Linked DNA regions of Homo sapiens. The main gene of each other region encodes a partner of the protein of the gene in region 2 in a complex. Each region holds a gene or a part of one and is shown on either strand. Other genes may lie near its edges.

Region 1 (3,759 bases), on a different chromosome or scaffold from region 2:
GTGCAGTGCAGTAGCTACACTTGGGGTCCCAGAAGAGCTGCCCCCTCCTGCACATTTCCAATGCAGTGTTCGTACTCTCGCTGATCTTCATCTCAAGTGCGGTCATTTTTATGTGTTGAATGAAATTAATACTTCCCCTCCAGGCTGGGCAGTTGTTAGCTCCCATTCTTGTCATTTCTATTCTTGCCTCAATTTTGTTTAGTATAGTTTTTGTGCTAACGATCTATTTTCCAAGTTTGTGCTCTCATTTGGGGCTCTAATCCCCTGAAGTAAGTCTTCTCTAGTTTGGGACTAAAAATAAGTTAAAGTACCATTACATGATTGCCTATGTACTTGGTGTATTTTTAAGACGAAGCGTTTGATTTCCCAGCTATAGCATAGGTCACAGAATTCATTTCAGAATCGAATGTCTGTGCTTTAGGTTTCTCCTCTAGTATTTTACTAATTTGTGCGATGACAGTGCATAGCCTCACTCCAGCGTGGGTGTGGCCGACGCATCTGCTCGCTCCCAGAAGAGGCAGGGACACAGACTGGCAGCTAGCCAGCCACTGATGATACTTGAGCCTTTGCTGGAGGACAGTGAGGTAACTGTGCCTCTCATCTCTCGTCCCACTCAGTATCATTCTGAAGGGAGTAAGGAATGCACTTGACCCCCTTCTAATCTCTCTTTGTGATCTTGCTATCCTCTCCAGCGCCCTTGCAGCAGTGTGCAGAAGATCGCCAGATCTGCCCTTCCCTGGCCGGGTTCCAGTTTACACAGTGGGACAGTGAAACACATAATGAGGTGTGGTCAAGTTTTAGTGGCTCATGGTTTCAGTTAGTTGGCTCAAGAGTGGTCCTGCCCAATGGGAACCAAAACTGTGGCATCATCTTTATTTAGCCAGGAGTACAGAAAATATTTCCTTTGGCACTTCTGTAGGGACAAAAACCCTGAGGGAGGAGGGTAGGGTTGTGAACCCCAGCAGGACTATTCTAGAGGTAAGTGAGTTCCAGGATCAGCTTTATGTCCTCTCTTCTGCTATCCTAGGGTAAGGCGGCCCTGGCATTAATCAGTGAACATTTATAATTAGATTTACTCTTGAATGTGGTTATCCCAGTGGCCTCGAATCTCTTAGGCTGCCGTCAAGCTTGAGGAATTTCCTGCTCTTTGGGGTTGAATCCCTTGGCACAGAGTTTCCTGAGAAATTGTCATGTGTAGAGCTTTCCTCTGTGTATTTTTAGCATGGCCCCCTTTAGCCTACTTACTACAATTTCCAAAATAAATGATCTCCATGGAAAACTGTTTTCTGCAAACATGTAGTTAATGGGTACAGAATCCTGTTTCATGTTTTACAAAATGTGCCTGACAACAATGCAGCTTCCTCCTGTGCTGCACAATATAAACTTCCCCCTCACTGTACTATCGTGAGAGTCTTGGCCCAGGCAGGCAGGGGATGGGAAAGGGAAGGGTGGCTCAGGGGAAGGAGGAGGCTGGAAACTGAAATTTAAGGGTGAGAAGGCTGTCCCTCCAGTGGTGATTTGGGGTGGTTATAGGAATGAGAATTACAGAACCCTCTTTTGTCCCTCCAGTCTGTGTCGGCCCTGGTAGACAAGTTTAAGAAGAATGACCAGGTATTTGACATCAATGCTGAAGTTGACGAGAGTGACTGTGGAGACTTCCCCGATGGGTCCCTGGGGGATGACTTTGATGCCAACGATGAACCTGACCACACCGCAGTTGGGGATCATGAAGAGTTCAGGAGCTGGAAGGAGCCCTGCCAGGTTCAGAGCTGCCAGTAAGGCTCTCAGAGTCCGAAAGTGTTTCTATAGGAGTTTTCCATTGGTTCTTTTTTCTTTTTCTTTTTTTTCTAATTAAAAAATTTTTCTTTCTTTTTTTTTCCCCCCCCAAAAATAGAGACGGGCATCTCACTGCATTGCCCAGGCTGGTCTTGAACTCTTGGGGCTCAAGCAATCCTCCTGCTTTGGCCTCCCAAGGTGCCAGGATTTCAGGTGTGAGCCACCATGCCTGGGCACTATCAGTTCTTAACAGATTTCCTGCTGGGGTGATTGAATTTGATGTCTGATTGGCTGGGCTGGTGTGCTGTGTCATACACATCAGCTGAGCTTTTCAGCTGAGCCTTTCTGACTCAGAGGAATCACACCTGGCTTTGAATGTCGGCTTAGCCACTTTGGTTATAAAACTGACATTGCAAGAGTTTGTAAGGATTAGAACAATGTAAAGCGTTTGGAACAAAGCACCTGGGATCTAGTAATTACGTCAATGTGGCTGTTGTTACCACGTGCATTTTGGTAGCAGAGAGCATGCTCCCTTTGTACACATTGCTTATAGTGTGGCTGTTGGTGACTCTAAGCCACCAATTTACCACCTGAAAGGTAAGCAAGTGGGGGTTAGGCAGTGTTGGGTTACCAGATGGGCAGACTGGGGACGAGCAAGGCAGGGAAAACAAAACCAACCAATAAATTGAGAATATTTGGAGGAGAAGAAGAAGAATTGGTTTAGTAATTAAATTTTTGATTACCCTAGTAAACATCATAAAAATAATCAGAACTTGGTTGGCCTTTATGTACTTAATAGGTTAGTATTGTTTTAATTCTAAATATGATTTGGAAGCAGGGTCTCACAACACTTTAATGTCATGGTCCTGTAAAGGTCTTCAATGGGCCTGGGGGTAGGAGATTTCATGAGATTAGAGTGAACAGTCCCTCTGTTAACTCCTATGTCTGTAACAGAGCTTTGCAGAACTGGGATTGGGGACAGCCAAGCTGGTTTTGAGTAAAACCTTAGAAGTTGCTTAGTATAATTTCCCGCTATGACAAAAATCTCTTCAAGACCCTGCTCGGATGTCTTTCCTAAGCTCATTTTGTCTGCCCTTGTGGGAAACGATTAGGCTGATAATGTCTTTTAAAGACATTATCAAGGCGCCACTGCCCATCCAGGCTCAGTAGCACCCTGCTCTCCGGAATTGTACTGTTCACATGGCTGCAATTTTGCCCCATTCTCATCGTGTCTTTTTTGTTTTTATGTTTTTTTGTTTTTTTTTTTTTTGAGACAGAGTCTCGGTCTGTCGCCCAGGCTGGAGTGCAGCAGCGCGATCTCTGCTCACTGCAAGCTCTGCCTCCCGGGTTCACACCATTCTCCTGCCTTAGCCTCCCGAGTAGCTGGGACTACAGGCGCCCGCCACCATGCCTGACTAATTTTTTTATTAGAGACGGGGTTTCACCATGTTAGCCAGGATGGTCTCGATCTCCTGACCTCATGATCCTCCCACCTCGGCCTCCCAAAGTGCTGGGATTACAGGCGTGAGCCACTGCGCCTGGCCATCCTGTCTTCTAAGAAGGGAGAAATGATAGGTTGATGGGATGAACTCTTAAAAACATCATTTTCAAATGTCAGAGAAAAGCTATCACTTTCCTTAAACAGTGAGGTGACATCTGAGGGACTGACAATAACAAAGGGCTTCCATGACTTTTATTTGGTTTCTGGAAGATGTTTTCTGCTGGTTATTTTGAACAAATGTCTCCACTTCTCTCCCCTATTCCAAACAGCACAAAATCTTAGACTCTATCCTACCTAGTACATTAGGCGTGGGAGGCTGCAGTTCTAGTCTCAGATTTTACCCATCCTTAAATCCCCTCCCCTTGCCACATCGCTGGCCTTTCCTGGGAATTCAGTGAGTGTTTGATCTGGAGTAGATCTGATCTTGCCGTTACTAGCCCTGAGATGTGGGGCAATGTTATCACCTTTTGCGGTCTTTGTTT
Region 2 (2,770 bases):
CTAGTATCTGGCTTTATCTTTGATGTGTTCTGTATCTAGAGTTCAGGGGTTAATTACTTTCGCTGACTTCATCTACTAAGTAAGTCTGGGGACCTCTTTCTCCAGGTCCTCGTTTATCCCTTCTGAGACGTCTCCTTCACTTTCTGGAAGCTGTGGTTAGCCCAGATCCCATCTTTTAGTTCTCCAGACCAGAAAGACCCCAGGCTTTCCACTGCAGCCTTAGCTGTCCTACAGCTGCATCATGACTATAGCTGGTACTTAGGTTAAAAACATTAACCTTAGCTTGTGCCTGTCTCTTCCTCCGTATTTTATCTCCCATCCAAAATCTTTCTAGTTTTTCTTCAGTTTCCTGAACTCTCAGGTAGTTGTTTCTAGTATTTTGCTCAGAATCTATATTTATCATCTGTGGGAATGTTGGCCTTTAGATTATGCCACCCTATTGGAAGAGAAAATTTCATGTCTTTGCTTTGCATTTGCTGTGAGCTTACTTGAAATGCCAAAACCGCCACCACCACAATGAATCCTCTCTTCACATGGTTGAGGTTCTTCTTTAAGGTAACATTCACGTTGTACATACTGCTCATACAGGTATTTTTCTTAAATTTATTCTGTACAATAAATACAAATGTTCAAGCTGTCAGTGACGTAGTATATCTTAGGTTCTGGAGACTGACAAGATTTGTCCATGGGCCCTGACACTCCTAACTGTATTATCACCCTGAGCAAGTTTCCTAACTTTTCTGCTCAACTCACTCAATTCCTCGATTACACCATGCTGACAACAACAGTATTTACCTCACTAGGTTACTCTGAGGATTAAATATGACAATACATACAAATGAGAACAGCAGCTAATGTAAAGAAAGAGCTTGTTAAATATTAGTTAACTCATATTACTGCAGATGTGTGAAACAAATGTCCCCAATCCCCTTAATGTCTTCCCTCTAATGAAAAAAAGTTACAACAATTTAATACATGTTTGAGGGTTTTCAAAGATCAAGATTATACAAGACAAAAATCAGGAACGCACACAAGCAAAACATTTTTAGCAGAGAAAAGGAAATGAGTACGTAAGCCAAAATAGTCAAACTCCCAAATTATTTTTAAAACGTTGGCTAAAACAGCAATGAAGTACCACTTAATAACTAACTGTTAAATCAGAAATATTAAAATTAACAGCAAGTACTGACTAATTTGTATACTATGGTATACTTTAATATTGACAGTGTGAATTGGTAACTGTTTTGGCACAGTCTGTAATACATTTGAAAGGAAACAAAAAAACTATATTTGACATTGGACTTTCTGTAACTCAACATTTACAGCATTATTTCCTCTCCCCTCCACAGTGGACAGAACTAATTCCAGATTCAATCCTTTCCAATGTGTCCCATAATATCAATTACTGCATGTTTTCTGACATCTCATATGTATGGAGAATGAAGGGTGGGAAATGTCAAGCCCAGGGCCAGGAAGTACGGCCATATATCAGGGGAAGTATGATAATAACACTAAGGAAATAAGACTAAAAAATCAAGAAGAGATGTGGGGCCAAAATAACACATGGAAGATCAGATTACATCATGTCAGACCTTTCATGATTCAGTTTGGGGTCACTGTTCTAGTGATGACGTACCAAAAACTGTAGACAGTATTCTCATGGTGTTCGCTAGTGTCATCTTTCAAGTTCTAAAGGAATTTCATCCCTTTGAACTGGAAAGCGGAAGACAAATAATCATCCAACTTTTGAGTTATTTTGGTGGAACAGATGGATTGAGTTATTTATATTTATACATATATATATCAGACTCAGGGAAAAATAAATTTGGTTTAGTCTACTGGCACCTACATTCTTGTTTACCAATAGGTTGTTAATGACTGGATTATGAAAAGGCTGACAAAAATCTTGGAAAATATTAACAAACTTCAGATAAATTTGCAGCAGATAGTACCACGCAACACACCTCCTAAGCTTTGATTTAAAAATACTTACACAGCTTAAAAAAACAAAAACATTAAAGTCGTAGAGACCAATTATTAAGCGTATAGGAACATGATATTCATGTATCATTAAAACGTAGAGACCAATTATTAAGCGTATAGGAACATGATATTCATGTATCATTAAAATAAGGATTCTTTCAAGATCTGTTTCCTATCTCAGTCTAAATCAGGGGTCTGGAGTTGTGGCCTTAAAAAACTAGCCTCAAACGGCTCCATGCATGCATAATAGCTTTATATGTGTTCCCTTTGTTGGTCCAGTTACCTGATTTATAATTCTTCCTTACCTGAATGACTTTAGAAAACACATTAATATTGCCTTAGGAATTAAATCAATTAAACACTGATGATCAGCTACATTTATCATGTAATTTAATCTGCTTTTTTGTATATTAGCTTTTACATATAGAATCGGGTATCTCAGGATCCCTAATATATAAAAGACCCGCATAAGAAAAAAACATTTGATGATATGCATAAAATCACAACCACAATAATTGGACCATAATTAGACTAGTTAAGAGATGAGGAATATATGCTCATTTGTAAGCGATAAGTGATTATATAAAGAGAAAACATGGGTTAAGTAACACAGTAACATTAATTTTTGTATATAAACAAATTAGTTATCTCAAGTCCTTAAAAGTTTACATTTAAAAAAACAGGTCAAGATGAAGAAATAACTTTGTAGTTTAAACTTCCACATGTGCTCCTTTGGGTGGTTTTGCCTTGGATTTTGCTTCCTTTGAAATCTTTCCATTTTGACATT

The links.
Region 1: SMC2 (region 2) and NCAPH share a complex: the UniProt entries of both Homo sapiens proteins name them as parts of the condensin complex.

Annotation. Positions count from the first base shown.
Region 1 is NC_000002.12:96,352,614-96,356,372, forward strand, and holds part of NCAPH (condensin complex subunit 2), read left to right. Parts: intron 1-692; coding exon 693-784; intron 785-1,569; coding exon 1,570-1,775; intron 1,776-3,759. UniProt on the Homo sapiens protein: Regulatory subunit of the condensin complex, a complex required for conversion of interphase chromatin into mitotic-like condense chromosomes.
Region 2 is NC_000009.12:104,139,239-104,142,008, reverse strand, and holds the end of SMC2 (structural maintenance of chromosomes protein 2), read right to left. Parts: coding exon 2,694-2,770; 3' UTR 590-2,693; downstream 1-589. UniProt on the Homo sapiens protein: Central component of the condensin complex, a complex required for conversion of interphase chromatin into mitotic-like condense chromosomes.